Regions from separate parts of the Homo sapiens genome. Here all the other regions are reported to be linked to region 3. Evidence: microRNA targets listed by miRTarBase, many of them from high-throughput screens and not tested one by one. Region 3 holds a microRNA gene; each other region holds the end of a gene's coding sequence.
The links. The annotated mature microRNA hsa-miR-5685 reads ACAGCCCAGCAGUUAUCACGGG and lies in region 3 at 2,952-2,973, opposite strand. An mRNA with a match to its seed (bases 2 to 7 or 8) in the 3' UTR can be bound and repressed. Matches are read on the target gene's strand: a 7mer-m8 pairs with bases 2 to 8, a 7mer-A1 pairs with bases 2 to 7 and ends in A, and an 8mer does both.

Region 1: the mRNA of CD302 is a reported target of hsa-miR-5685. Seed matches in the 3' UTR shown: 7mer-m8 at 2,926-2,932.
Region 2: the mRNA of NEURL1 is a reported target of hsa-miR-5685. Seed matches in the 3' UTR shown: 7mer-m8 at 2,857-2,863 and 7mer-A1 at 2,363-2,369.
Region 4: the mRNA of MXRA8 is a reported target of hsa-miR-5685. Seed matches in the 3' UTR shown: 7mer-m8 at 2,872-2,878.
Region 5: the mRNA of USP53 is a reported target of hsa-miR-5685. Seed matches in the 3' UTR shown: 7mer-m8 at 1,772-1,778.
Region 6: the mRNA of NCAPH is a reported target of hsa-miR-5685. Seed matches in the 3' UTR shown: 7mer-A1 at 1,834-1,840 and 7mer-A1 at 1,974-1,980.
Region 7: the mRNA of NHLRC4 is a reported target of hsa-miR-5685. Seed matches in the 3' UTR shown: 7mer-m8 at 580-586, 7mer-m8 at 905-911 and 7mer-m8 at 910-916.

Annotation. Positions count from the first base shown.
Region 1 is chr2:159,768,303-159,772,377 of GRCh38, reverse strand. CD302 (CD302 molecule) reads left to right here. Exons shown (of 6, transcript NM_014880.5): 6 at 325-3,750. The coding sequence ends at 527. MARCHF7 (membrane associated ring-CH-type finger 7) reads right to left here. Exons shown (of 12, transcript NM_001282805.2): 12 at 1,351-4,075. LY75-CD302 (LY75-CD302 readthrough) reads left to right here. Exons shown (of 38, transcript NM_001198760.1): 38 at 325-3,750. The coding sequence ends at 527. Among named protein-coding and RNA genes, the nearest start is that of CD302, 28 kb to the left of the region's middle.
Region 2 is chr10:103,589,979-103,594,053 of GRCh38, reverse strand. It overlaps NEURL1 (neuralized E3 ubiquitin protein ligase 1), which reads right to left. Exons shown (of 6, transcript NM_004210.5): 6 at 1,508-3,920. The coding sequence ends at 3,682. It overlaps SH3PXD2A (SH3 and PX domains 2A), which reads left to right. Exons shown (of 15, transcript NM_001394015.1): 15 at 1-27. Among named protein-coding and RNA genes, the nearest start is that of NEURL1-AS1, 75 kb to the right of the region's middle. RefSeq lists an enhancer at 1,348-1,642.
Region 3 is chr6:53,275,900-53,279,974 of GRCh38, reverse strand. MIR5685 (microRNA 5685) reads right to left here and starts at 2,982; the gene lies at 2,904-2,982. ELOVL5 (ELOVL fatty acid elongase 5) reads left to right here. Exons shown (of 8, transcript NM_021814.5): 4 at 3,719-3,796.
Region 4 is chr1:1,349,980-1,353,979 of GRCh38, forward strand. MXRA8 (matrix remodeling associated 8) reads right to left here. Exons shown (of 10, transcript NM_032348.4): 9 at 3,869-3,949; 10 at 2,712-3,650. The coding sequence ends at 3,625. Among named protein-coding and RNA genes, the nearest start is that of DVL1, 2.6 kb to the left of the region's middle. RefSeq lists a silencer at 1-60 and an enhancer at 3,518-4,000.
Region 5 is chr4:119,292,354-119,296,422 of GRCh38, forward strand. It overlaps USP53 (ubiquitin specific peptidase 53), which reads left to right. Exons shown (of 19, transcript NM_001371395.1): 19 at 1-3,165. The coding sequence ends at 858. ARLN (allregulin) reads right to left here. Exons shown (of 2, transcript NM_001001701.4): 2 at 4,066-4,069. Among named protein-coding and RNA genes, the nearest start is that of ARLN, 6.3 kb to the right of the region's middle.
Region 6 is chr2:96,372,920-96,376,994 of GRCh38, forward strand. It overlaps NCAPH (non-SMC condensin I complex subunit H), which reads left to right. Exons shown (of 18, transcript NM_015341.5): 18 at 373-4,075. The coding sequence ends at 432. Among named protein-coding and RNA genes, the nearest start is that of NCAPH, 39 kb to the left of the region's middle.
Region 7 is chr16:567,974-572,048 of GRCh38, forward strand. NHLRC4 (NHL repeat containing 4) reads left to right here. Exons shown (of 2, transcript NM_001301159.2): 2 at 1-1,522. The coding sequence starts at 75. The coding sequence ends at 446. PIGQ (phosphatidylinositol glycan anchor biosynthesis class Q) reads left to right here and starts at 1,995. Exons shown (of 11, transcript NM_004204.5): 1 at 1,995-2,123. RefSeq lists silencers at 1,862-2,021, 2,092-2,311 and an enhancer at 2,942-3,836.

The sequences.
Region 1 (4,075 bases), not on the chromosome of region 3:
AGGTCTGAATTTGTAGTCTTAGATCAGAAAGTAAAGCGAAGGAAGACAAACTGGAGCATGGTATATACTTGCGTGATTTCCACTATGGGGTCTTCAGTAGAGTGGAGAAGTGCACAACTTCCTAGAAAATTTGAGTACTATTCTTCAGGCTAAGAAATATAAATCTTGTTAGTAACAAATGCGAAATTTTTGGTTTTCTCATCAGTGTGGGAAATTCTCAACACAGAGAAATGTTTACACAAAACTACAGTTGTGCTCATCAAAATATACTTGCAACTTGTGTACCCTAATTTCCCAAATACTCTTTTGTCTTTTCCTTTTCAGATAACCACATTTTAATATCAGCATTGGTGATTGCTAGCACGGTAATTTTGACAGTTTTGGGAGCAATCATTTGGTTCCTGTACAAAAAACATTCTGATTCTCGTTTCACCACAGTTTTTTCAACCGCACCCCAATCACCTTATAATGAAGACTGTGTTTTGGTAGTTGGAGAAGAAAATGAATATCCTGTTCAATTTGACTAAGTTTTTGGTAATCTTGCACTAAGACATCAACAAAATGCCCTGGCAGAGATAACTTGGGAAAGATTTTAATATAAAACTTGACATTGGATATTAGAGCTTTAATGGTATTCCTTATTCCAGTAACATTTTTATGTACTCATCTGCTGTGAAAAGTCTTTAGGTTCATTAAAAAAACAGGTTTTAGAAATGATCTTAGATCTAATATAGTGATTTTAAGCATCCCGTCAAAGGCAGAATCTGTCACTTGAATGAAGGAAAGCTTAAAGCCCAAGCAGATAAAAATAAAAGCCCAGCCTATTTGTCTTGCCTGCTGTATCTTCCCTATTTAGTTGACCCACTTTAGTTTATATGTTTATTAGTAAACATGAAATGGGGAATAAGTGATTTTAAGTACATCCCATACATTTAAATATCTTTGATAATTGTTATTTTTTTGGCAGATAATTCCTCTAGAATGTGTATCTTTTTATGATTTAGATGAAGAAAATTTTACAACTTTTAACACCCCACACCAATTTTAGTTTCATTACTTTTACACACACCATTTTATCACAAATGACTCAAGTTTTAATGAATGTTTATAAATTATTTGAAACAAAATATGATCGCTGTGTCCAGGATGGCATAGAGAAAGCTGGCAATTAGGTTAACACTTACATATTATAGTGCCCCTTTAAGGATTTCTCTCTTGCCACCATACCTTTTGTACTTTCCCCTATACAAGATGTATCTCATTCTCCTCAAGCATTTATAAATTTTTCCTTCAATGACATGAAAACTGTGCAAGCAAAAACCGAAGAAAAACACTTAAGTACAACTGTAGTGACAGTGATCAAAGTTTTCAGTGCATTTATTGTACATTTTAAGAAAAAGGTGAAAATCATTTGGGGAGTAAAAAAATGAAAAAGCTGAAACGAGTAATTTTCCTCACCATCAATAAACCAAAAACAGGAAAGATAAAGAATGTATAAATTTCACGTAAATTAGTCACGTATCACTTATCAATGGGGATACGTTCTAAGAAATGCATAGTTAGGGAATCTTGTGTGAAAATCAGCTTGTATTTACACAAACCCAGATGGTAGAGCCTATTTTGTCCCAAACCTACACAGCATGTTACTGTGCTGAATACTGCAGACAATTGTAACACAATATTTGTGTATCTAAATATAGAAAAGGTACAGTAAAAATATGGTCTACTAAGGAAACACTGTTCTATATGTGGTCCATTACTGACTGAAGTATACTGTCTAGAAGTCTGAGGCTCAAAGAAAAGTAATCCCTCTTCTGAATCCACACCCCATCAATTATCTTACTTTCTTCTGGGGAGATAGATAGATATACTATCTCACTAGCTTGACTAATGGCAACAAAGTTCCAGCTTGTGTAGTCTCTTTTTATTGACCACATGAATCGAAAACACTCATCACAATTAATGGCACTATCATTAATGAGACATGAGTAACTAAAAAGTGATAGAAAACTATTAACAGTGCGGCTACATGGTACTGAAAATGCAGGCATTACACCAGCTGTTACACAAGCACAAGCATGCTCTGTAAGAGCTTTACATTTCTGAGATTTTGTATAGTGATTGAGATGTCTATTTTATTATTGATAGACTATTACTAATGTCAATATTGAACACTACCCTGGAATTCCTGCCTGGTTTTCCTACCCAAATTGTACCACTCCTTGAAGAACTACAGGCACAGTAAAAAAAATATGGCGTATTATGTGAACTAAAAGAGTTCTAAAGGAGTTCTTAAAGGAGTGGTAGAATTTGGGTAGGAAAGTGATTAAGTCCAACTTAAAACCAACAGTCTCAAACGTCTACAACTACAATGTCCAATGAGCCACTAGCCACATGAGGCTATTTAAGTAAATTTAGTTTAAAATCCAGTTTTCGAATTACATTAGCCACATTGTCAAGTGTTCAAATCACAGGTGGTTAGTGGCTACTGTACTGGGCAACATACATTATAGAACATTTTCATTATAGGAAGTTTTATTGGGCAGTGCTGCTCTTAAATCCTACCTTCCACTCAACTCCCATACAACTTTCTTTTGTACATTTTGATACTTTCTACCTAATGGCAGCTCTTCCAAAATAGCTGCTTTAAACTCTGATTTAATTTTCAATATTTGGTTTCATTTTTCAACAGGCCAAGAGGCCTCTGGTAATGAAGTGCTATATATATATATATGATGGAGTCTCACTGTGCTGCCCAGGCTACAGTGCAGTGGCTCGATCTTGGCTCTCTCCAATCTCCGCCTTGCAGGTTTTCAAGCAATTCTCCTGCCTCAGCCTCCTTAGTAGCTGGGACCACAGACATCTGTCACCACACCCAGCTAACTTTTTGTATTTTTGGTAGAGACGGGGTTTCGCCATATTGACTGGGCTGGTCTCAAACTCCTGACCTCAAGTGATCCACCCACCTTGGTCTCCCAAAGTGCTGGGATTACATGCGTGAGCCACCACACTTGGCCTACATTTTTTCTTTATATACCAGAACATCTATAACAGGCACCTTATCTACTCATTAGTGAAGAGATAATTGGATTACACAGGCAGGCTTGTTTACTACATCCAGAATGTAGAAACTGCTTTCTTCAACATCTTGGTTCTAGCTAGTAATAACAATATAATTCTTTGGCAGATATTCAGAATAACATTTTAAACTACATTTTCTTAGAAAATTGCATTCTTGTAGTGAGCAGTGTATGGTCTCTTTTGTTCAGAATTTAAAACTGATAACCAATGAAAGCCTTTTCTCTTATTCCTCTACCGTCATTTACATGATAATCTGAAGCTAATATGACAATATTTAAATACTAAGTGGTACTAGGGAACTACAAGAATACTGTAAAGCTTAAGCCATTGTTATCACTGTCATTTAGCATTTAATAACAAAACTATACAGAATTATGTGCATACCAATGAATGTTTTGTACCATCTAGTTAAATTTTTTAAATAAAGTTTTATGGGTTAAGCAGAAGACAACTGTCATACTGAATTTTATTAAAAGTATATATACTTCAAATTCAAAGCATCCCTTAGGACCCACAGAATATATTAAAACTACCACCCTTAAATTTTATATTTTTGCTTTAAGACAGACAATGCAAAGGTAACTGGCAAGAGGTGAGCAAATGTTTTAGAACATTTATATTATTGCTTAAAATGAGATTTGAAATTGTAATAAAATTCTTGGTTATGAAGTCTGATGTCTTCTTTGAGCACCAGTTTAAAAGGAAACATTTCAAACAGTAAAATAAATCAGTGTGTACTTTATTTTGAGCCAATGTTTTACATAAGACCAACAAACTAAGTGTGGGCAAACTGTTCAATCACTTTTGAGAAATTACATGGTTCCTATTTAGGTTTGAAAAAGTAGTTTGTTGCCATAACATCAGACCTTAAGGTGTTTTAAAGTGTATCCTAAGGGTACTGACAGAAGAAAAATACAGTGTTATGGAAGTATACACAACTCATGACCACACAGTATAGATCCATTCATGGTGAATAATGTTCATCTGTTCTCCA
Region 2 (4,075 bases), not on the chromosome of region 3:
ATAAAGTTTTGGGCCTTTTTAACCGAACGGAATCACCTCTTAATTCTCCCTGTCACCAAAAACACCCATCCAGCTGAACAGCCAATGTCCCATTATCCCAAATTGCAAAGTGGACTTCAGGATCCCAGGGCCCTCTGAAAGAAAGGACACTGGAGGGTGGGGGCAGGTAGGTAAGCTCTCGCTTTTTTTTTTTTTTTTAACAGGGTCTCACCCTGTCACCCAGGCTGGAGTGCAGTAGCATGATCATAGGTCACTGCAACCTCGACCTCCCTTACTCAAGCGATCCTCCCACCTCAGCCTCCTGAGTAGTTGGGACTACAGGCGCACCACCATGCCCAGATGATTTTTCTATTATTTGTAGAGACAGGTTCTTGCTATGTTGCCAAGGCTGGTCTCAAGCTCCTGGGCTCAAGCAATCCTCCTGCCTCAGCCTCCCAAAGTCTGGGATTACAGACATGAGCCAGCTCTCACTCTTGGTGAGAGCTGTGGTCAAGCTCCTCCAGCCTCTTCCCCACTTTTGGGAGGCTTTCTGGGCAGTGGCCAAGGCTTTGAAAGATGCAGATCTTGGGGCCAAGGACCCACATCCAGCAGGCCTAGCTGGCTCCTTAGCATGGCCCCCCGACCCTCTCCTGCTTTTGCTGGACCCCAGTAAGCAGGACCAGGTAACCCTGATGCAAGGAACAGGCCATGGCTGTGCAAGGCCATGCAGAGGCTGGGTAGCCTGAGCATCCTCCCTGGAACAGGATGGGCAGGCAGGTATCCCATGTGCCTCTGAGGCCTGGTGCTGCCAAATGAGCTCAATTCCAACACTGTGCCTAGACCTTGGGGCCAGTCTGGCTGCCTCCTCCCCACCACCCCTCTCCCCTCAGCCTTCCCCACCACTCGGATCACTTAGCGCATCTAGAACACTTCTCTAAAGGACTCTATCCAGAGGCTTCCCTTTTCTCCTCAGTGGCACCACCCATTTGGTATAGGCCTCTGCACCCACCAGTGGGAACACAGCTGAACTCCCTCCAGATGTGGGGGTCTGAGCCTGGGGAGAGGGGTGGAAGCCTTGTTCCTGGGGAGCTCAGAGCACAGCCCCTGATGACCTGAGTTGACCACTTGTCATCCTCCCATTAGCCCCCTAGGTGGCACTGCGCACCCCCCTACAAGCGGCAGATTTGAGCCCTGCTCAGCCTTAAGGAGAAGCCCCATCCCAGGGCACCTTCCCCACCACACCCTGCTCCTCACAGATGCAGTAGCCTCTCCCAATTTGCAAGGCTCACCTGGCATTCTAGACCCAAGTCACGCTCCAGCCCCCGACTCCAGGGAGTCTTCCCTGATTGCCCCAGCCCACCTTGAAGCCTCAGAGGCCTGCAATTACCCCTCAGGGAAGGGCCACAGCTCCTGATGACTCCCCTAGTATCCAGGACACCAGGCCTCCACACCCCAGCCTGCCCCCACATGTGCACGCACACGCTGGCCCTCCTTCCCCAGTGCTCTGCGCACAGCACCGCCCTCAGGCTGGTACGAAATCACTTTTATTCACAATCACAGCGACCCAAGTGCACAAGGGAAGCAGCAGCCACCCCTGCACTGACAGAGGTAATGAGATGATGGCTTCCTCTCCCCAACCCTCAGCCTCTGGGATCCCTGGCTGGGGGGCCCGCTAGCCAGCCCCCGCTCCCTCCCACACAGAAGGGGTCTCCCAGGGTCAGTGACTGGGTAGTGGAGACCCATAGTGGGACAGTGACTTCCCCACACACCCACTGCAAGGCCAGCACAAAGGCCCAGCCTGAGGTCCTGGCACACCACCCCCTGGCAGCCCTCACGGAAGAACTCCCGAGTCACACAGAAAGCCTGCCCCTCTCTCCCGAAACAACCATTTTATAGAAATGGAAGCTGGGCTCCAGGGGGCTACGACTCGGCCAGGGCCACACAGCTGGTCAGTGGCCAGGACTAAAACCCATGCCCTGCCTGCCACACAGAGGTGCAGTCTCTGATGGATGCAAAAAAAAACAAAAACAAAAAGCCATCTGAGGGGGCAGAGGGCTGGGAGGCTGGGAGAGCCCAGGCCAGGGCAGGCAGGGCTGAGAGGACCGACCTCAGCAGGTGGGGCGCTCCCTCCCCAGAACTTAGAGAACCTGGAGGTGTGAGAGGCAGCCCTTGCCTCCTCATCTTCCCTACGAACAGGCTCCCTGCCCCGCCATCACAAGGTCTCCCTGTCCTGTTCCTGGCCCACACTAGGAACACTGGCCCTCCTGGAAGTTTGACGTCCTTATGGAGGGGGGACCTCCTGGGCCACCTGAGGTACCTAAGCCAACCATGATAACCCAGCTCTGGCCCAGGAGGAAGGGTGCTCTATGGCTCTGGGTGACCATCAGCCCCAGGGCACTAAGGAGGCTTGGTTTGCCTCTCTGTAAAATAGACACTGTTTGCCAAAAGGCCTCCCAATTTGGCCCCTCCTTATGGAGTTCCAGTTCATGATTGGTAGGGCTGGGTATGAGCTTTGTGGCTGGAGTCAGGGGAAGATACTGCATTATGACTGCCTCAGCCACACCCTTTCCCAGGTACCCCACACACAAAGGCAGCATTTCTAGGGGCCCAGAGGATGGGAACTCACCTACAAACAAACAAACAAAAAAAACCCAAAACCACAAACCAAATAAATAAATTAATTAAACTGAGGAAAAAGGCTGGTCTTGGCCCAGGGAACCCACACCTCCCCACCCAGGGCCCTGGCCCATCCCAGGTGTGCCACAGGCTCTGACTATCAGCCTAGGCCCTGGACAGCACAAGATATGGGGAAAAGGTCAGAGAGGGTAGCTGCAAACCTGTTCTTAGGGACCCTGGCAGAAGACCAACCCTTCTCCCCAGCCCATACCGAAGGGCTACCCCTGGGCAATGGCATCCAGCGAGATGATTGGGGCAGGAAGGCTACAGCCAGGACAGGATCCTCCCCTTCTCAGCCAGGGGCCCAGAACCTGGAGCCCTCTGCAGCCTGTCCATGTGCCCATCAGGTAGTGGGAGAGAGACATGGCATGAGGCTGCAGCCTGCCCAGGACGGGAGGCAACCACCAGCCTCTCACCCCCAGCTGCCATGCCCAGTGGGCAGGGAACGAAGAAAGAGAAGGTAGGCATAGGTCAGAGAGGGAGACAGCAGCTCAGGAGCGGCCTGCCCAGGGCGGTTGTTGAGCAGGCTGTACACTGCTCAAGGGCAGTTGGCTGAGAGGGCAAATGAGCCTAAAATCCACTCCATGCTGCACTAGCCAGGCCACATGTCCTGGCTCAGGGCTGCAGCTGCCCAGAGGAAGGTACATGTTTTCTAATTCTCACAAAGGTGCCACATGGACTACAGACACCTCCTAGAAACCTGCCTCAGATGGGGAAAGATTAGGGCAGGCTGAGATCCCAATTTAGCCCTCAGCATGCAGAGAGGAGCTGGGTGCAGAGACGGGAGAGACAGGGAGAGTGCGGCCTCCTCTCCTCCCCTCCCTCTGCCCGGTGATTTGCCTCTGCCCCCTCCCTGCCTGATACCCCCCTCTCCCCAAACCTTCAAGGGCTTCAGTTTCCCATGTTTAATAGAGGAGGAAAAGTTTCCAAAATGAGGAAGAGAAGGGGCCCCACTGGCTTGTTCCTCAGCTGGGACTGGGCTGAAGCCCGAGAAGATGGGTATGCGGGATGGGCCACCGCAACGGGCTAGGAGCTGCGGTAGGTCTTGATGATGTCCTTGATGGGGCGGCGGCAGATGGGGCAGCAGGCGTGCAGAGCCTTCTTGAGGCGCAGGCCACAGGCGTAGCAGAGGCACATGTGGCCACATGTGTAGATGACCGTGTCCACCGCGTGTTCATAGCAAATGGTGCACTCATCGCTCCACTGGCCCAGACCTGGGGTCACTGGCGACTCGGGCAGGCTCACTGGCGAATTGGGGGCTGTCCCTGAGGACAAGGGGGCACCAGTCAGGAGGAGACATGGCCCAACCCGGCGCTGGATTCACGGGAAGAGAGCTCCCCGGCCTCTTGTGTCCCCCTCCATTTATCAGGATCTGCCTGTTCACCCTGACAACCCAACTTCCAGGGCACAAGGGAAGAGG
Region 3 (4,075 bases):
TCAGTCCTTTGCTTTGAGCACCTCTGTAGTCCACTACCCATGGACACATTGCTATCCTCTGAGGGGGATGGAGGGAGTAGAGCCCTCTACTGCTAGCCCATTTTATGGAGGTTTGATGAGGGTCTTAGGTGAATAAGCTTCAACTCAGGTCCTTGGTCTTGGTTTGTTAAATTATTCTATCCTTTCTGAAGCCAGGGAGATTTGAGAATTTCCATGACCCCATTATGAAATTGATGATGAAGAGTTTTCATCTTGTGAACAGAGTTCAGATGAATATGATCACAAAGTCAAGCCTCGTTTAAAATACTATGAAGCTCTCTTTATTGCTGCACATGAAACATTAGGCCTAGATTTAGGGGAAAGAATTGGCAGTCTTGAACTCTTTGTCATTTGTTTAGCAAATATTTGTTTGACATCTCTGGTACGCTAATCCCTGTGCTGGAATATGTTGATGCAGATGCAGGAGCCACAGTCACCACCCTTCGAAATCTTACAGAAGAGCACACAACAGGCCCATTAACAAAGGGAGCATGTGAGCAAACAGCTACAGGTCACTGCAAGGTGAGGGTAGAGGAAGGAGAATAGACCTCAGGCTCTAGTGCTCAAGGGAGTAATCATGAAGAAAATAGAATTTTAACTGAACTTTGAAGGATAGATAGGATTTTGAGAGCTGGAGATGGGGGTACATAGGTGCAGAGGGCATTCTAGTTGAAAAGAATAAAACAGTGGTCACTGCCAACACTTATGTTTAATCCTATGAACCACATTGGGTGAGACAGGCATTATGTACTTCATGGTGGGAGCCTTATGTTTATCCCATTTGAGGACTGAGAAAACTGAAGTTTAAAATGTTGGAATACCTTAGCTAAGGTCACCTAGCAAAACGTGAAAAAGCTAGGGTTTAATGGGCTAATGCCCAAACCCATGCTCTTTCCCCTTGGCTACTGTGTAGCGGTTAAGGAAGGGCATGTTTGGAGAATGGGAAGAGGTCCAATTTGTGTGCACGTAGGGGAGAAGTGAAAGATAAGCTTGGGACCACGTTGTGGAAGACTAAATACCTGGACACTGCACCTAGGATTCAGGGTTTCATTCTGAAGGCAATGATGACTCACTGGAGGGTTTTAAATATGGAAATATGGAATTCAGTGGTTTGAGGGGCACAGCGGCCCCAGTGGAAGTGTGGTAGGTGTGAGTAGCAGTGGAGGGAGTGTTGCATTGAAGCATGACAGAGCTCCTACAGGGAACCTCAACAGGTGGAAGAGGAATGGTGGGCCTAGGTCAAGTGGAGTGGCACCGAGTGAGCAGCTTCTTGTGTGTATACCTGGTTTATGCTTCAGGAGTGAAAAAAGTTCACCACCCAATACTGAGGTTTGAGTTCTTTAACTAAACTCCAAAGACAACAGGTGTTTTATACATGGATTCCCCTGCCCCATTTATGGGTGGGGAGAGGGCAAATGGAACGTTAGGTTAACTAGTTTAAAGAGTCAAGGCAATCCCACCTGGATCCCTTCTTAAAAAGGAAGCCTGTGTCCAAGAGTCCCTTCTGCTGAGTTAACAAGACCCCTTCAACCCGTTCTCATCTTTGGGATTGAGGCGCCTGCAGAATTACAAGAGAGGATTTGTCCTCCTCTTCTCCAGAGAGCTACCTTGATTTTCCCCACCCCTGCCAAGATAGACATTCATGAATGCAGTCATCCACACCTCCACAAGTGCACACACACCAGCCATCCTATTTTAAAACAGACAAAAGCAAAACCAACCCAGGATGTCTCTGGACACCATAAACCAAAATAGTCGCTGGAAAAAACAGTGATGGTAGGTTCCAGATTTAAGATTCATAAAATGGTAACATTTCCAAAAATATCTCTGATGAAGACAGTCATATGTTAGTACGTTTTTAATTTTGCCAAGAGAGGCTGCTGTTTTAAAAAAGAGGATCTTTTACATTGCACGAATTTATCTTCATGAAAACCTTACTGCGTTGTCCTTATTTTTCTTATTCGCGGTTGTCCCACAAACATTTCATCAAGAAGCACCAGTTTCCTTTCTGTACCCTCAAGCCACAGGAGGTAGTTCCTTGGTTCCCTCCTGGGGTAGAAAGAAGGGCAGCAAAAAGAGCACTGTGCTAAGCTGGCCCTTCCCTCTCCACCCCAGGTCTCAAGAGTGCATGCCAGCTTCCTCCCCCGACCTCCAACGCACTTTGGATTCAGACTTTGTGTCTTGCTTCTTAGGACTTCTGATCAGCCTGCATGGATCCTGCTTGACTGGCCATGACTTTAGAGAGTAGTAGAAGACAGAAAAGTTAATACACCTTCTAATGAATTACCATGTGGGTACTGATCTTTCAAAGATAGTATAGAATAGTTTGTTGTGTGGTCTGTTTTTAAAGTCTGTTAACATGAAGCTACAGAAATTTGGAACAGACCCTTTAGAGATAATTTAGTCCAACCTCATCATTTTATAGTAAAAACAACAAAAGCCCACAGGAATTAGCTGGCTTGCCCCAGGTGCTGGGCCTGGCACTCAAGCCTTCCTCCTAATTCCATGGCTCTTCATCATGAACTGATGCTTCTCCCATGCTAAATCCTTGTGCTCTTCTTTGGCCATGAAAAGCCTGTTAACTCTCAGTGCTTTTTTATGTGTAGAAGGTGACAAAGCAGAAGGAAAATGGCAAGAAGAAAGATAACCAAAGAAAAATCAGATAGAAGGCAGGATACCCAGCGTGAGTGCAGCGGCTACACCCATTTTTTGCCATTTATTTCTGATGTCAGACCAGGTGGAAATATCACAAGGTGTCTTCAGATCCTTGTAATCACCTCTTGTTCCCTGGGGGGGAATCTGTGTTGCTCGCCAAGCTAAACTCTTGTGTTCAAGGACAGGGAACACAAGAATTGGGGTGCAGACTCTACATCACAGCCCTGCAGTTATCACGGGCCCATTGAGGGGAGGGGCCCGTGATAACTGCTGGGCTGTGATGTAGAGCCTGTACCCCAGTTCTGGGGTCCTCTCTGTGACAGCATAGTGCCTACTGTGCTGCAAGTGATTCTGAGGCATGGGCACTTGTGAAGCCTTCAGTTTGTGAAGCCTAATTCATGGATCCGGAGGATTGTACATACAACAACAGGAAATAATGAAGATAAAGTTGGACTAAATTATCCCTGAGCCTACAGCAGTGGTTCTCAAAGTATGGTTTCCACATCAGCAGCATCAGTATCACCTGGACCTTGTTAGACATACAAATTCTAGGCCCCCAGACCTACTGGAACAGAAACACCCCCAGGGACCCATGTTTTACTAACTCACCCCTCAGGTAATTCTGGTGCTGCACACTCAAGTTTGAGGAGCACTGGCTTAGGGAAAGCAGCCAGAGGCTTCTGTGGGGCAGAGCAGGGAGCCTGTGATTGGCTTGGTCTGGGCACTTGTGCTAGGACCAAGGGGGTGACGGGCTGAGGGTTCTGCAGAGAAGCAGCGTGGTAAAGGAAGGTCTCTGAGGGCAGCAGCCTGGGAGTGACTTTTAAGCCCACCCCTTAGGAAATTGAGACTCAAGTCATTAAAGCTTTCCTTTTGTTTACACTTGCCTACAATTGTTTTTTCTCAGAGCAAACTTGGCTCAGCACAGCCCAAGGTAAATTATCACAGATTCTGCAACTAATAAAGTTCAATGAGGACTTTACATGGCTCAGATGCTGTTGGTGACTGGCTCTTTCTTCTTTTTTAGTTAGTAACAGGAGTATGGGAAGGCAAATACAACTTCTTCTGTCAGGGCACACGCACCGCAGGAGAATCAGATATGAAGGTACTGTCTCTTTTTCAGAAACTTTATTATTATAAGTGTTGAGTTTTTAAAAATAAATTGTATAAAATACAAAATGGCCCATAACCTCACTGCCCAGGCAATCCCTGTTGATATTTTTAAAAGAATAAAAAAGGCAATATATACACATCAAATTAAAATTTGAATGTGAAAGGTATAAAATAAAACCTAAAGCATCCCCCTCTGTAAAAATAACTCCGGTTAACAATTGGCAGGAAAAATCACATGCAGTCAGTATGTTATATTTACACAATCAGGATC
Region 4 (4,000 bases), not on the chromosome of region 3:
GAGTGAGGAGGGGGCCTGGACGGGGCAGGAGCGACGGGGGGAGTGAGGAGGGGGCCTGGACGGGGCAGGAGCGACGGGGGGAGTGAGGAGGGGGCCTGGACGGGGCAGGAGCGACGGGGGGAGTGAGGAGGGGGCCTGGACGGGGCAGGAGCGACGGGGGGAGTGAGGAGGGGGCCTGGACGGGGCAGGAGCGACGGGGGGAGTGAGGAGGGGGCCTGGACGGGGCAGGAGCGACGGGGGGAGTGAGGAGGGGGCCTGGACGGGGCAGGAGCGACGGGGGGAGTGAGGAGGGGGCCTGGACGGGGCAGGAGCGACGGGGGGAGTGAGGAGGGGGCCTGGACGGGGCAGGAGCGACGGGGGGAGTGAGGAGGGGGCCTGGACGGGGCTGGAGCGACGGGGGGAGTGAGGAGGGGGCCTGGACCGGGCAGGAGCGACGGGGGGAGTGAGGAGGGGGCCTGGACCGGGCAGGAGCGACGGGGGGAGTGAGGAGGGGGCCTGGACGGGGCAGGAGCGACGGGGGGAGTGAGGAGGGGGCCTGGACGGGGCAGGAGCGACGGGGGGAGTGAGGAGGGGGCCTGGACGGGGCAGGAGCGACGGGGGGAGTGAGGAGGGGGCCTGGACGGGGCAGGAGCGACGGGGGGAGTGAGGAGGGGGCCTGGACGGGGCAGGAGCGACGGGGGGAGTGAGGAGGGGGCCTGGACGGGGCAGGAGCGACGGGGGGAGTGAGGAGGGGGCCTGGACGGGGCAGGAGCGACGGGGGGAGTGAGGAGGGGGCCTGGACGGGGCAGGAGCGACGGGGGGAGTGAGGAGGGGGCCTGGACCGGGCAGGAGCGACGGGGGGAGTGAGGAGGGGGCCTGGACGGGGCAGGAGCGACGGGGGGAGTGAGGAGGGGGCCTGGACGGGGCAGGAGCGACGGGGGGAGTGAGGAGGGGGCCTGGACGGGGCAGGAGCGACGGGGGGAGTGAGGAGGGGGCCTGGACGGGGCAGGAGCGACGGGGGGAGTGAGGAGGGGGCCTGGACCGGGCAGGAGCGACGGGGGGAGTGAGGAGGGGGCCTGGACCGGGCAGGAGCGACGGGGGGAGTGAGGAGGGGGCCTGGACGGGGCAGGAGCGACGGGGGGAGTGAGGAGGGGGCCTGGACGGGGCAGGAGCGACGGGGGGAGTGAGGAGGGGGCCTGGACGGGGCTGGAGCGACGGGGGGAGTGAGGAGGGGGCCTGGACGGGGCAGGAGCGACGGGGGGAGTGAGGAGGGGGCCTGGACGGGGCAGGAGCGACGGGGGGAGTGAGGAGGGGGCCTGGACCGGGCAGGAGCGACGGGGGGAGTGAGGAGGGGGCCTGGACGGGGCAGGAGCGACGGGGGGAGTGAGGAGGGGGCCTGGACGGGGCAGGAGCGACGGGGGGAGTGAGGAGGGGGCCTGGACGGGGCAGGAGCGACGGGGGGAGTGAGGAGGGGGCCTGGACGGGGCTGGAGCGATGGGGAAGAGAGTGCGGTGGGGTCCCTTGGTTCCCGTCCCCAGGAAGCCGGCGAGATGGAACTGGCATCTATCGGGCCCTGACCGTGCTGGGGGCTGCACCGGCTCGGAAAGAAACCGATCAGTGCAGGCACCAGTGCTTGACGGTCAGCTTGGGCCTGGGATCCTGACCCTGCACCCGGGCTCTGAGAGGGAGAACTGTGGCGTTTGCTCAGCCAAGCCCGGACAGCTTAGCCGCCAGCCCCCTCCACCTTCCCGCAGCCCTTCTCTTCCCCAGAGGTCAGAAGCCAGGCAGGAAGACCTAAGAGGGGCTATCTGTTGAGGCCCCAGGGAGGGAGGAAGCCTGTCCCTGCCCTGAGGGCCTGACCCCAGGCTAGGTCTCAAGAGAGGCTGGAAGCCAGAGGCCTGAGGCCAGTCCCGTTGCTGACGCGGATGTGGTCCAGCTGGGGCCCTGACAGGTGTGGCCACTGGTGAGGCCAGAGGTAACCGGGCTGGGAGGGGGGTGCATCTTCAAGCCACACCTCCCCAGACCAGCCTCCCTCCCTCCCCATCCATGCTTGTGTGGGGTCCTTGTGGGCAACTGTCACCCTTTCCCACCCCCACTGTCCTGGGAGGACTGGAGGATGGGGTTGGGTGGTGACGCCAGCTTCAAGAAGCAGCAGTTAGTCGCTGGTCTGTGCTGCCAGGACCCCGGGCCACGGGCCTTCCTGCTCCCGCCACTCCTCCCACCGCCTGAACTTGTGCTGAGATCCTGCACCCAACCAGCTGATGCCTGAGCGGGAAAGGATTCTAGGGCCAGATCCGTGCTGGCCTGGCCAAGACTCTTGGAACCACCCTGCTGTCCCGGGCTGTCTCTGCTGGAGCCTCTTTGCTCCCGCCCCCTTTGCAAGTGTCTGACCCGCATCCCACTACTCCCGCTCCTCGTCCCTCTGCCTCTCCAAGAGCTGTGCTCCCACGGCCTTCCCTCTGGCCTCACAGCCACCACCACGTCCCCCCTCCTCACGTCCAGGTCAGCCCTCAAGGGAATCTGAACTCCTCCACGACCAGAAGCCACACAGAACTAGCTCAAAGGTCCCCTTCCCAGGACACCGACTCCCAGAGGACCCAGACCCAGACCTTTCAGCCCAAGGAATGGGATGATGTCAGGGGTTCCAGGTGGAGACGAGGACTCCCAGGCCCAGACTCATGCCTTGCCCAGCCCCAGGAGACGGAGTTTCAGAAGCATACCTGGGACAAGTCTAAAAATCAGATGGGGACTTTATTGTGATGGTGGCAGGTCCACCAGCAGATGCAAATGTGGGGTGCTGAGAGTGGCAACACAGGCCACCCCAAACCAACTTCACTCCCTCCCCTGTCCTCAGCCAGTACAGAAGCCAAATGTAGCCCCAGCCCTAGACTCCAGCCCAGGCAGAGTCCAAGGGAGGGGTGTCAGGGTCAGAAGTCACAGGGAGCCCAGTGACTATCAAGGTGGCTGAGAGCAAGGCTAGGGTAGGGATGGGGCAGAGAAAGGGCAAGGGGTGCAGCCCCAGGTGGCCCAAAGCAACACAGAGGAGCAAGGGCTGGCATTCAAGTCAGCAGGTCCCTGGGGAGAACAGATGGTGCCTGGAGTCCCACATGGTGGTACAGGTGGGGGAGCTCTCGGTGGCAGGCAGCACCCCAGGAGGAGTGGGACTCCTGCCGAGGCTGACCCCAACTTCAAGGCTGCCAAGTTCTGATGGGAGTGTCCTCCTCCAGGAACATCTCCCAGCCCCCGACGAGCAGAGCCCTGGAGGAGTGGGACTCCTGCCCTGAGGCTGACCCCAGTTTTGGGGCTGCCAGGTTCTGATGGGAGTGTCCTCCAGGAATGTCTTCAGGCCCCCAGCGGGCAGAGCCCAGAAGGGTCTGAGGGCATGATGGGCATCAGTGGGATTTTGGTTGTGCCAGGGGTGGGCAGGGCCACCCGTGAGCAAAGGCCGCAGGGGTGGGGGCTATGCTGCCACCAAGCCCCTGGGAGAGGGGTGTGGAGGCGGCCTCTGCATACGCCCAGGCCAAATTCCAGGAAAGCGGGACCAGCCGCTGGAAGGGGGGTGAGCCCCGGAGCATCAGGAGATGCCCCGAGGAGCACAGACAGGAGAGGTGCAGCTGCTGGCCCAGCCAGGAGCCCAGGGCCTCCCTATTTGCAGTTCTCCTTCCGGAACCCTGGAAGCCAAGGGCGCCAACGGGTTGGCGGCTGTCCTCCACCCTCATCACAGTGGGAGACACAGGGCAGACCCCCCCGCAGGACTCCCCAGGGATTTCTGAGCCTGAGGTGGCAGGGGCCCCGGGCCTGGCTGGTGCCTGCCATCGTTGGTCCCAGGTGAGGTGGAATGGGGACAGGCAGGGCTCTGAGATGGGCTGAGGTCGCCCCCGCCGCTCACCTTTGTCTAGGTCGATGTACTTGGCAGGCAGGGGGCTGTGGGCCAGCTCCGCCCTCTCCTTCAGGATGTTGTTTTTGTAATCTGTGGGAGGAGAGGAGGCTGAGGTCCCCGCTCCCAGGATGCACTTCCCAG
Region 5 (4,069 bases), not on the chromosome of region 3:
GACAATGGAAAGTTATTTCCTTCATCCAGTCTACAAATACCCAAGGACCATAATGCAAGAGAACATATCCACCAGTCAGATGAACAGAAACTTGAAAAACCGAATGAATGCAAATTTTCTGAGTGGCTTAATATAGAAAATTCTGAGAGAACAGGTTTGCCTTTTCACGTTGATAACTCTGCTTCTGGGAAGAGAGTGAACAGTAATGAACCATCTTCATTATGGTCTTCACACCTAAGAACTGTTGGGTTAAAGCCAGAAACTGCTCCTCTCATCCAGCAACAAAATATCATGGATCAATGTTACTTTGAGAACTCTCTATCCACAGAATGTATAATTCGGTCAGCCAGCAGATCTGATGGGTGTCAGATGCCAAAACTTTTTTGCCAGAATCTACCACCCCCTTTGCCACCAAAGAAATATGCTATAACCAGTGTGCCACAGTCAGAGAAAAGCGAATCTACACCTGATGTCAAACTTACAGAGGTGTTTAAAGCTACCTCTCATCTTCCGAAGCACAGTTTAAGTACAGCTTCAGAACCAAGTTTAGAAGTGAGTACACATATGAATGATGAAAGACATAAAGAAACATTTCAAGTGAGAGAATGTTTTGGCAACACACCAAACTGTCCATCCAGCTCCTCAACTAACGATTTTCAGGCAAACTCAGGTGCCATTGATGCATTTTGCCAACCAGAACTAGACTCTATTTCTACCTGTCCAAATGAGACAGTTTCATTAACTACCTATTTTTCAGTTGATAGCTGCATGACGGATACATATAGATTGAAATACCATCAGAGGCCCAAGCTCTCTTTTCCAGAGAGCAGTGGCTTTTGTAATAATTCACTATCTTAGAGTGAAAAAGGACTAGACCTGTGTTACATAATAATCTTGGTTCAAGCTGCCCTTCTGAACAAAGATATAAACCTAGCATACATTGTAATAGATAACTGGTAAAACTGACCAACTTTTACTTCTCAGAGGCCATTTAAATATAATAGGAACCTACTGACCAAACCTAGTGATACATAAAATTAAAGCCTGTGGCATTTTTAAAGTTGTTAATCACTATACATATGTATGTGTATATGTGTATACACATATATAATTTTATGATCAATATCTTAGATATTTTAGAAATTCCCTTTGAATAGTCTTGGCGTGCCGTGAAAAATAGAAAATCAGGGAGATATAATAATTCATTTGTCATATGCTACAGTTGAATAAAAATTAAATTTGTCCCCCTATTTTGTGGCCAGTAGACTGGGAAGTATTAAACTAACCAGTACTCATGTATGGAGATTATAAACTATGCTAATTGAAAAGTACCAGGTGATACATAGCCTGGTACTTTTTTGTCAAAGAATTGCTTTATGAAGAAGCACTTTCTAATGGGTAACCAGAAAAGGGCTTCACCCATTTGTTTTTGACTTCTATGATAGTCACTGCATATGATCCCTTTAAGTGTCTTTAAAAAAAATGACTTATGAATTTGATAGCATTTGGGGAAAAAAAGCCTTATATGATTAACAATTTGTAAGTTTTCAAGATCGGATGGAATTTAATTTTGCTCCTAGAATTTTTGTCTTCAGAATATCTAGTTAAGATAAATTAGGCCTTTGACTATTATAGGTATTCATAAATGCTACTTTAGCCATGTAAGTTAAAAAGTTAAAATACTTAAACTTTAGTGTATTTATTTATCTCGTTACTTTTTTTCTAATTTTATATGAAATGTGAAAGGTCTTTATTTTGGTTTGGTTTACTTTGGGCTGCTAACCACCAGTGTTAGGAATTAATGTAGGGCACCCTCTTATTGGGAATGTCACTGTAATTGCCTACATTTTCTTTGCTGTAATATTACCTGCTTATAGGTTGTCAACCCATTTTATCTGAATTTGAAAATCTATCTAGGTTTCCAGATTAAATTTCTACCTTTCATATAGAGAGTTTAATTTTAATAAAATGTTTAATTAGAGCATCCTTCCCTTTTATTCTACTTTGAACAAATAGTAATTTTACCCCAACTACTTTTCATGAAGAGTGCTTTGAAAATTAAAGGAATTTTTATTATTATGGTAACCTTATGAGTAAAAATAAGTTACTTTAATTGCTTTATTTCGTTAGTTGTCATTTTATTTTGTACTATGCTGGTAAACTAATTGTGGTTTAGAATAGTTTTATGTTCACTCCTGATAACTGAGAAACAGAACTAAAGTTTTCCTTACATTGCTAAATGGATAAACCTCATATTCAATAAACTAGTAAATGTAGCCACTTGACTGATTGCGTAAATCGTGTTAAAACATTCTAAAATGTTGTAACTAATTTAATGTGAATACTGTTAAACAGAAAATAATTGCTTATAAAAGTCTAACTTCACCCAGTTACCAAGTCTTGGCCAAATTTTATCTTCTGCCTATAGTTTTTACTAGCCTTTTTAAACTATAATAGTGAGTGATCATTACTTTATATTCTCGTAAGTTAGAAATACTTGAATGCCAAATTAATTTTGTTTTAAGAAAGCTTATTTTTAACATAATTTTTTAGTGTGGAGGGTTTGTAAATAATGTAAAGTTTGTAAACCTGTATTTAAAATACCAAAGTTTTTCTTCTTTTATAACATTGTAAGATACTAGAAAAATGGGCTTCAAGTTTTTTAATAGCTTTCACAGTTTGTGTAGTTTTTTTTTTCTATTTGGTTAAGATGTGAGTTGGAAATGTATTATTTGAAACATTTAAACTAATTTTTGTATTTAACAGCAGTCTCAGACATTTGTCTTTTCAACTCAGTTGAGTTGTAGATATCAAATAGAAATGTCCAGTTTTGCCTCTTTTAAGTACTGTCCAGTTGAAACCTCCTGACTCATGTACTACTACACAAACTAGAAAATGCCCATTTATTTTTGTTGATTCAACACTCCAGATACAGATTGATACATATATACTAATCATTTTATTTCATGTAAAAGTTTTACATCTAGGGTGCCTATTTATTTTTATAGATGCTTTCATCCAGTTATAAGCTTATTATAACTTTGTAAATATTTCAGCCAACAGTTGTAATGTTTAAAATACTTACCTTCAGAATGTTATATTTTCATGTGAAATCAATTTCTTCTAATTCAAAAAAATTTTAAGATAAACTGATTTTTAAGTTTATATGATTGGACTTCTCTTTGCATTCATGAACTGTGTGTCACCCTCCCACCAACGTGGATTATTTTGGGACATGTTAAGTCGCGGGTACTTGGAATTTCACTGATCATAAACGGTTATCACAGGAGATCCTAGGAGTTAAACTCCAGCAAGGTCTAAAGCACAGCTCCTTAGAAAAGGAGTTGGCAAACTTTCTATAAAGATAGAAAATAATTTAGGCTTTGTGGACCATAATATTTCTGTAATAACTACTCAACTCTGCCTTTGTAATGTGAAAGCAGCCATAAACAATATGTAAATGAATGAGCATGGCTGTTTTCCAGTAAAACTTTGTCAACATAGAAATCCAGATTGCATATAACTTTCATGTCATGAAAGTTTTTTTTTTCTCCATTTTAAAATGTAAAAAATATTCTTAGCTCACAGGCTGAAGTCTCCAAATGTACTCCCATGCCACTTACGGACTGAGTATTTGCAGCTCTTTACATCCTAAAACGTTCAGGTTAAGCTCCCTAAAAACTATCCCTTGCAACTGCTAACAAGCCAGTTCATTTCAAAAGGAACTACTAAAACAATCATTTCACTTTATATAAAATGGTGTGAAATTTACAAAAGAATTTATCAGAGTAAAGTCACATTTTCTTTTGATGTCTTTTTTGTTTTGTTATCTTAGCAAGTTTGCAACTTTTCTTGGCGTTCCATTTATCCACTTCTTAAAAGCCTTCAAACTGAGGGCAATGTAAGCAGTCACTATACTTGCTATGGCACAGTTTAATGGTAGGTACAATTTCTTACCTATAGGAAAGATTCAGCCTTCATACTGCCACCATTTTGAAAATGCCAATTACAGTCATGTCATATTACTAAGTCAGGGTTTGCCATAGAAAGAGAATCAACAGGATATATA
Region 6 (4,075 bases), not on the chromosome of region 3:
GGAACACCCCTCGAGGATAAGGGGGGACGACTGACTATATGTATGTGTTGTGGCTCCTCATGACCTCCCATCTGCCTCCATTAGCATCTTCAGGGCAGACGGCTCAGCTCTTAGGCCCTTTATAGGGGGTGGGTTGCAGGAATCAGAGCCAGAGAAGGCTTGCTTTTTGCTTTTTCACCTAAGTCATTTTGTTATAACAAGGATTGGGAATCAGGTTTTTCATGCAAATTATACTTGCTATGAAACAGTTTTTCTTATAATCATGGGACAAACTTTCTTCTTTGTAGTCACTACCTTGTGACTGTGATTGGAATTTATGATTCTTTTATTCTCCGTATACCAAAGTCCATGCATGTTTTGGTCTTCCCTCAGAATCTAAAACTGGAAGGAACAGAGGACCTCTCTGATGTTCTTGTGAGGCAAGGAGATTGAGTTCACTATGGAGAAGTCAGCAGCAGGAGGCCCATCCCTTACTCAGTTGCCGGGACATCCCCAGTCTCGGGGGAAGAAGATGCCATGGGCTTATACCCAGGCTGTAGCCAACTACCAACGTGCCTGTTTGTTTGTTGCTCTTTCCTTCTCTCCATCATAGTCTGGGTGCCAGCGCCCTGAAGCTCCGTGCTCAACTGATTAAACTTTACTGCCCTATGGTGACCATCTAGGAGAGGGGAGGGCAGAGGGGGTGAGGGTACTATTCTGGATTGAGAAAACCTATATCCATTCTTTATATCAATGTATAGTTTTAGTCTCCTAAATTGATCTGTTATTTTCCAAACTATTCTCTTGTAGAAAATTTTCCAGTGGGCACTTAATGGTGCCCTTGAAGAACTTCCTAATCCATGTACATAAAATACATCATATGTACACTTATAAATGTATATAGAATGCTCAAAAATAAAATTCTTAATAATAGAACTGGCAAAATATTTGAGTGTCCACTAGATGAGTATCAGACCTAGTCCTTACCCTTAGGGGGATGCAGTCCTGGTTGTTATCCAGGATACACACCTGTCAGTATAAGGCAGAAGATGCCTAAGGGCCAAGATGGTTTGCCTCGGAGGAGAATGGAAGAGAGAGATTGCTGACTGGACATTCAGATGCAAGACTGGGTCCTGCTTAAATCCCAGGATTCTGCTGGAGGGAGCTGATAGTGATACTTGTCCCTTCTGTACATTGCTTCATGTAGCCTTCTCAGCATCCCTAGGAGAAACTTACTATTGTGACTCTCATGTTGGAGGAGGAAACGGACACCCAAGGTAGAGGAACTTGCAAAAGGGCAGCCGGCAAACTGTCAGGGGTGGCCTGAGCCTGGCAATCTGCCTCCAGAGTCTGCTCTCGGCCATTGTGCTATGTGCTACCTGGATAGGTCATACAGGCTCAGCAGTGGGTGGAGAGCAGTGCTCAGATTTGTCCATCTCCACAGAATGCAGCACACACACAAATGTACAAGTTCTTCCCCTAACCTCAGAGGAATAGGGGAATTAACTTTGCTTGCAATTTGGAACAATATTATAGATGTTGATCCAAGTAGTTCTGTTACTGGCTGGTCCTGGATCTCTGCCAGAACACCCGTCATCATTGACTGGCTAAATAGAGATCTTGGATATAGGCCAGAAGCAGTGAAGTATATAATTGGAAATTGCTCCTGATAATAACTTCCTTCTTAGCCAAAAACCACACAAAACAAAAATAATCCCCTCCCCACAGGAATATGCTTTCCAAATTGTGTCCAAAACATTACCTGCTCTGTTATATTGAGAAGGTTAGAGACTTCAGAGCATGCTTAGAAAAAGCAGTGGTGCCACAGGTGAGACTCCACACTCTGTCTTGCTGGGGCTGAAGCCTCCATCACTTTCCCAGGCCAGGTTAGTGCTGGGCTTCTTGCTTTCCTTCTATTCCTGAGAGTAGAACTGGCTAAGCCCATTCCTTCCCTCAGTCAGCCCCACTTCTCTATAGTGGGTTCTGGGGGTGGGGGGCTGAATTACCAGTAAAACTAGAAAGATTGGGACCAAGTGCAGTGGCCCACACCTGTAAATCCTAGCGCTTTGAAAGGAAGAGGCAGGAGGATTGCTTGAAGTCAGGAGTTCAAGACCAGCCTGGGCAAAATAGAACCCCATCTTTAAAAAAAAAGTTTAAAAATTAGCCAGGTACGGAGGTGTGTGCCTGTAATCCCAGCTACTCAGAAGGCTGAGGTGGGATAATCACTTGAGCCCAGGAGTTTGAGGCTGCAGTGAGCTGTGATCACACTACTGCATTCCAGCCAGGACAACAGAGTGAGATCCTATCTCTTAAACAAAAAAAAAAACTGGCGAGTTCAATACCAACTTCTACAATGAAATCCCCTTCCCCCCACAACCCTGCTTCTCCTAAGTTTCCCTCATTACATGGTTGCTGTGGGCTATGTGTGCTGTGGTCTGAATGTTTGTGTCTAAAATTCACATGTTGGTATTAAGAGATAGGGCCTTTGGGAGGTGATTAGGTTATGAGGGCAGATCCCTCGTGAATGGGATTAGTGCTCTTATAAAAGAGGCCTGAGGAAGCTTGTTCGTTCCTCTTGCCCTTCTGCCATGTAAGGATGCAATGAGAAGGCACCATCTGTGAGCAAGGAGCCCCTCACCAGACAGCAAATCTGCCGGCGTCTTGATCTTGGACTTCTCAGCCTCTAGAACTGTGAACAATAAATCTATTGTTTATAAATTAAGCAGTCTAAGTCATTTTGTTATAGCAGACAAATTGACTAAGACAGTGGGTATGCAAGATAAGTTTATTTTATATAAAATACTTTGGGAAGTAGGTGTTCTAGGACTGGTGTGACAGTTCCATGAAATTATGAGAGACCGGGGATCCTTCCAGCTCATCCTTCTGTTTCAGTGTGGCTGCTGGAATCCAGCCATCACATCCATAGTCTAAGCAGCAGGACGAAGGACTGGGGGAAAAGAGAACTGCTGCTCCCTGTTAAATCAGTTTCCTGGGGGTCGATATGAATATTTGCCACCTCAGGGTGCCACAAAGGTCCCCACCAGCAAGAAGGCTCCCACCAGATATGGACTCAACCTGGGACTTTTCAGCCTCCATAACTGTAATAAATTCCTTTGTCAGTTACCCAGTTTCAGGTATTCTGTTATAGGTAACAGAAAACAAACTAATACAAGTGGTAATGTGTCCAGCTAAAAATTTGGGTTCTGTTAAGGTTAAAAGAAAATTTGAGGTAGCCAGCAGTATCTGCCTCAGATGCTGAGAAGCCTCCTGAGATAAGAGCGTATACCATGTCCATAACTGAAGTTTTAACATTCTCTGCCAAACAGAACCAGAATTTAAGGGCAGGAGAATTTGCAAGATAGAATTTGCAATTTGCAAGAGGGAATTGCAATTTGCAAGAGAGGGGCAATTTGCAATTTGCAAGAGAGGGCAATTTGCAAGAGAGAATTGTGGGGCCCTGAGAGAGAATACATCCAAAGGAAGAGGGAACCAGGCATTACAAATTGAATTGAACAAGGACAGATATCTGAAGGGGGTTTGTAGTTCCCAGTAAAGTATGGTACAGCTAGGTGCACTTCCCTGGCCAGACCACCCTACAGTGTATGATCCCCCTGGGGAGCAAAAGGCTGCAGGTAACACTTTGGTGCCCTAGAAATTCTGCTGTGGTGCAACTATAGTGGATCACAGGCAGAGTGGGGCATTGTTCCCCTTCTTAGCACAGGATACTGGGTCATTTCAACACCACAAGGATTTGCAGCATCTGCGGCAACGAGTTTGGTGTCCTGGAGCAAGGAAAGGAACCGTTCATGGTGGCTGAAGCCAAGCTGCTCAGCACTGAGGCAGCAAGCCATGATCTAGGTCTTCGAGTAGAATTCTCAGTTTTGGTTCATTTAAAAATGTTTTTTGGGGGAATTGGGGATCATTTATGGGTACCAAAAGAAAAAAAAATGAATAAGATCTACTATTTGATAGCACAATAGGGTGACTATAGTCAATAATAACAATTGTATATTTTAAAATAAAGAATGTAATTGAAAAGAGTAAATGCCTGAGGGGATGGATACCCCATTCTCTGTGATGTGCTTATTTCACATTG
Region 7 (4,075 bases), not on the chromosome of region 3:
TGACGGACTACTTGCCTGGGGCTGTGCACAGCTTCTCGTTGGGTCCTGCTTGGGAGCCCCTGGCCCCAGCCTCCATGCTGGGTCTGGAGGGCCCCTGCTGGGTGGGCCCAGGGCCTGATGGGGGCCTTGCTGTGAGTGAGGAGTTTGGGGATGTGAGGCTGTTTGGCAGTGCCCGCCAACCCCTGGGCTCCCTGGGGGGCTGGACGGGGCACACTTTCGGCTGCCCAGCGGGCATCTGCTCCAACTCAGAGGGCAATGTTATTGTGGCAGACGAGCAGAGGCGCCAGGTGACCCTGTTTCCCCGGGCTGGGCCACCCATCTGCCTGGTGTCAGAGGGGCTTGGGCAGCCCTTGGGAGTGGCCTGTGCACCCCAGGGCCAGCTCCTGGTGGCTGATGCCAAGGACAACTCCATCAAGGTGTACCAGGGCCTCAAGGAGCTGGCCTGACCTGAGGCTGGGTTGGAGCAGCCCTCCTGTGCCTGAGGCCAGCTCCCAGGCCCTTGGATCACCGCGGGAGGAACCCTCAGGATGGGTGGAGCCTCCAGGCTATGGGCATTGCCTGCCTGATGCCAGCACCACCTGGGCTGGGCCCTGGGCTTGGCTCGAGTTCTCCTGCTGGTGAGGCTCCGGATCTCAGGAGCAGCCCTGAGTCTGCTTCCCAGGCTGCCCCTGCCAGGCCTGCAGCCTCCCCAGCCAGGGCTGCTCTCTGCTGTCCCCATTCAGTGCCCTGGCCCCTGCATTCATGCCCCCCACACCCCCTCAGGCCCTGTGCCTGGACTTTGGGGCTGGCAGCTGAAGCCTTGAGATCCTGGGCCAGCTGCCGGCACACAGCTAGGCAGACTCTCCCACCAGGTGCCCCTGCCCAGGCCTCCTAATCGGGGGCAGACAGGCAGGGAGGGTGTGGCTGGGCTGGGCTGGGCGGGGCGGCCTGGGGCAGGGGTGTGGCCCCTAAATGTCCCCAACCTCAGAGGGACCTAGAGTCCTGAGCCTCCAGTAGCTTCTCTGGGCCTGGCAGAGGTAAGGGGGAGGCAACCCTGGAGTGTCTGGAGGCCCATGGCTGGCTGAACCCTGGATGCCTTTTCTTCCGCGTCCCCATGAATGAAAGCTGTCTGGGCCTTCATTCTGCAGACAGGGACAAACAGCTCCATGCTGTTTGTCCTCCCAGTGCAGCCGTGCTGGGAGGGTCTGGGGGAGCTTCCTACAAGGAGAGACTCCTGCTGCTTTGGAAAACTGAGAAAAAATAGGGGTCTAACCCTCTCCTCCCATTTTACAAGTGGGGAAATGAGGCGTGAAAGGAGAGGCGTCTGGGTTACTCCGTGGGTCTGGGGTCCAGGGAAGGGCCTGTATGGGGGAGGGAGCTGGGAGGGGACGGTGTCTGGCTCTACCCCTGTGGGGTGGGGAGGTGGGGCTCCCCTGTATCACAGGACATCCCCCCTGAGAGGTCCCTCATATGTCTGGGTCCTGTGGGTGGGGGACTAACTGCGCAATGTAGTTAGGTGCTCAATAAACGGAGTTGCCGCTGAGGTCTGGGCTGGGGTCTTGTTCCTGGGATCGGGAGGGGCTGGACGCCTGTGTGTTCTCTCCTGACGATCGCTGGCGGCAGCCTCTGGGCTGGTCCTACCAGGGCTCAAAATTCCCGGCACCACTGGCCTTGGGGATCTGGGGGCGGCCCCTCTGCAGACAACAGAGTGACGGGGGCGGGACCGGGCTGGGGCTGGGGCCTTCCTGGAATCCCGCAGGGCCTGGGGACCTGTTCACTTGGGGAGGCTGGGAGCCAGGCGGGGTCCGGGTTCCACGAAGGCCAGGTCCAGTCAGTTTCTCAGGTGAGGAAACCGAGCTGACGCGGGGCTGGCGGCCCGGAGGCAGGCTCGGGAGGTCCGGGCCTGGGGACTGGGCGGGCACGCTGCGCCGCGGAACGCTCGGGTCGGGCGGGCGGGCGGGCAGCCCGGGCGCCTTTGGGGGCCGGACCGTCGCGCGGCAACGCGCGGAGCCGGCGGAAGTGGGGCTCGGGTCCCGCGGCGGGGCTGGAGGCAGCGAGCGCCGTCGTCTGCCCGGGCCCGCCCATCGGGGTCCCCAACCCCATCCGGACCCCGCCGCCCGAGCGCGCGGCCCCGGAAGCACCCGGTGAGCAGGGGGGGTGGGCGGCGCGCGGCGGGACCTCGGGCAGCGCCCCTGCGGCTCCGGGCCTGGGCTGGGGGCTCCGCACTCCCGCCCGCGGCGCCGCTGCTTTCTCCTCCCAGAAGTGGGGCCGCCCCCGGGCCCGCGCCGACCTGGGCCCCTGTGGACCCTGTGCAAGGGCGGTCGGCGGCCCGGGCCTGGCTGTGGGCCCTTCGCAGTTGTCCCGGTTTGCAGGAAAGGGCAAAAAACGGAATCGTAGGCTCTTCCCAAATGAGAGGGGAAGGCCCTGCTTGAGGAAGGCAAGCAAGTTTGTTTGTTTGTTTGTTTTGAGACGGGGTCTCACCATGTTGCCCAGGCTGAACTCGTGTTTGTTTTTCATTATTTATTTATTTTGAGAGGGAGTCTCGCTCTGTCGCCCAGGCTGGAGTGCAATGGCGCGATCTCGGGTCACTGCAACCGCTGCCTCCCGGGTTCCAGCGATTCTCCTGCCTCAGCCTCCCCAGTAGCTGGGATTACAGGTGCCCACCACCACGCCCGGCTAATTTCTGTATTTTTAGTAGAGACTTGGTTTCACCCCCATCGAGGCTGGTCTTAAGCTCCTGACCTCAAGTGATCCGCCCGCCTCGGCCTCCCAAAGTGCTGGGATTACAGGCGTGAGCCACCGCGCCAGGTTGGTGTTTATTTTTCAAACAAGGCGCTGGGAAACGCAAATTCTCCAGAGCTCTTGTGGAGCGGTGGCAGGGAGGGGCGGCTCAGCCAGAGATGGCCCTGGCCCGTCCTAACTGGGCTGGGGTGCCCCCATTCCCTCATTCACGGGGAGGAGAGGGAAGTCTTAGTCTTACTACTTTATATGGTCGACCTCCCTACCTGCCTGGTCTGGGAATGGCTTCTCAAGAGCACTCGGGCTCATTCTTAGCAGAGGAAGCTCTTCTGGCTAGCCTGGCGCCCGTGTGTGTGTGTGTGTGTGTGTGTGTGTGTGTGTGTGTGTGTGTGTGTGTGTGTGTGTGTGTGTGTGTGTCTGGCTAGCCTGGTGCCCGTGTGTGTGTGTGTGTGTCTGGCTAGCCTGGCACCCGTGGCTAGCCTGGCGCCCGTGTGTGTGTGTGTGTGTGTCTGGCTAGCCTGTGTGTGTCTGGTTAGCCTGTGTGTGTGTGTGTGTGTCTGGCTAGCCTGTGTGTGTGTGTGTGGCTAGCCTGGCGCCCGTGTGTGTGTGTGTGTCTGGCTAGCCTGGCAACCATGGCTAGCCTGGTGCCCGTGTGTGTGTGTGTGTCTGGCTAGCCTGGGACCCGTGGCTAGCCTGGTGCCCGTGTGTGTGTGTCTGGCTAGCCTGTGTGTGTCTGGTTAGCCTGTGTGTGTGTGTGTGTGTTTGTGTCTGGCTAGCCTGTGTGTGTCTGGTTAGCCTGTGTGTGTGTGTGTGTGTGTGTGTGTGTGTGTCTGGCTAGCCTGGCGCCTGTGTGTGTGTGTGTCTGGCTAGCCTGGTGCCCGTGTGTGTGTGTGTGTGTGTGTGTGGCTAGCCTGGCGCCCGTGTGTGTGTGTGTGTGTGTGTGTTTCCTCAGTCTTTAAAGATGCTCACGTTGCTTTCTCCCGTCCCATACCTCCTCTGCTATCGATCGCTTCTCTTTCATCTTCCTCTGGCTGTGTGATCCCAGCAGCTGCTAGTGCAGGCTTCTTTGTGCCGCCGACCGTCCCAGAGGCTGAGGTGGGAGTGTGATGGGCGTTTGCCCCACAGTACGTTGAGTTTTCTCTCACTACTCGACAGAGAAGAGTAGCTTCTGCCCTCCCATCTCCTTCGGTAGACACAAGGCACTTTTTTTTTTTAAGGTAAACTTTGTAGATGAAGCACAAAGAATACACACAAAGAAAGCGCACAGATCGTGAGCACGTAGCTCGGTGAATTTACCCAAAGTGAGCCCACCGCAGAACCAGCTCCCCCTAGAACATCTGTTTACTGTTAGACCCAT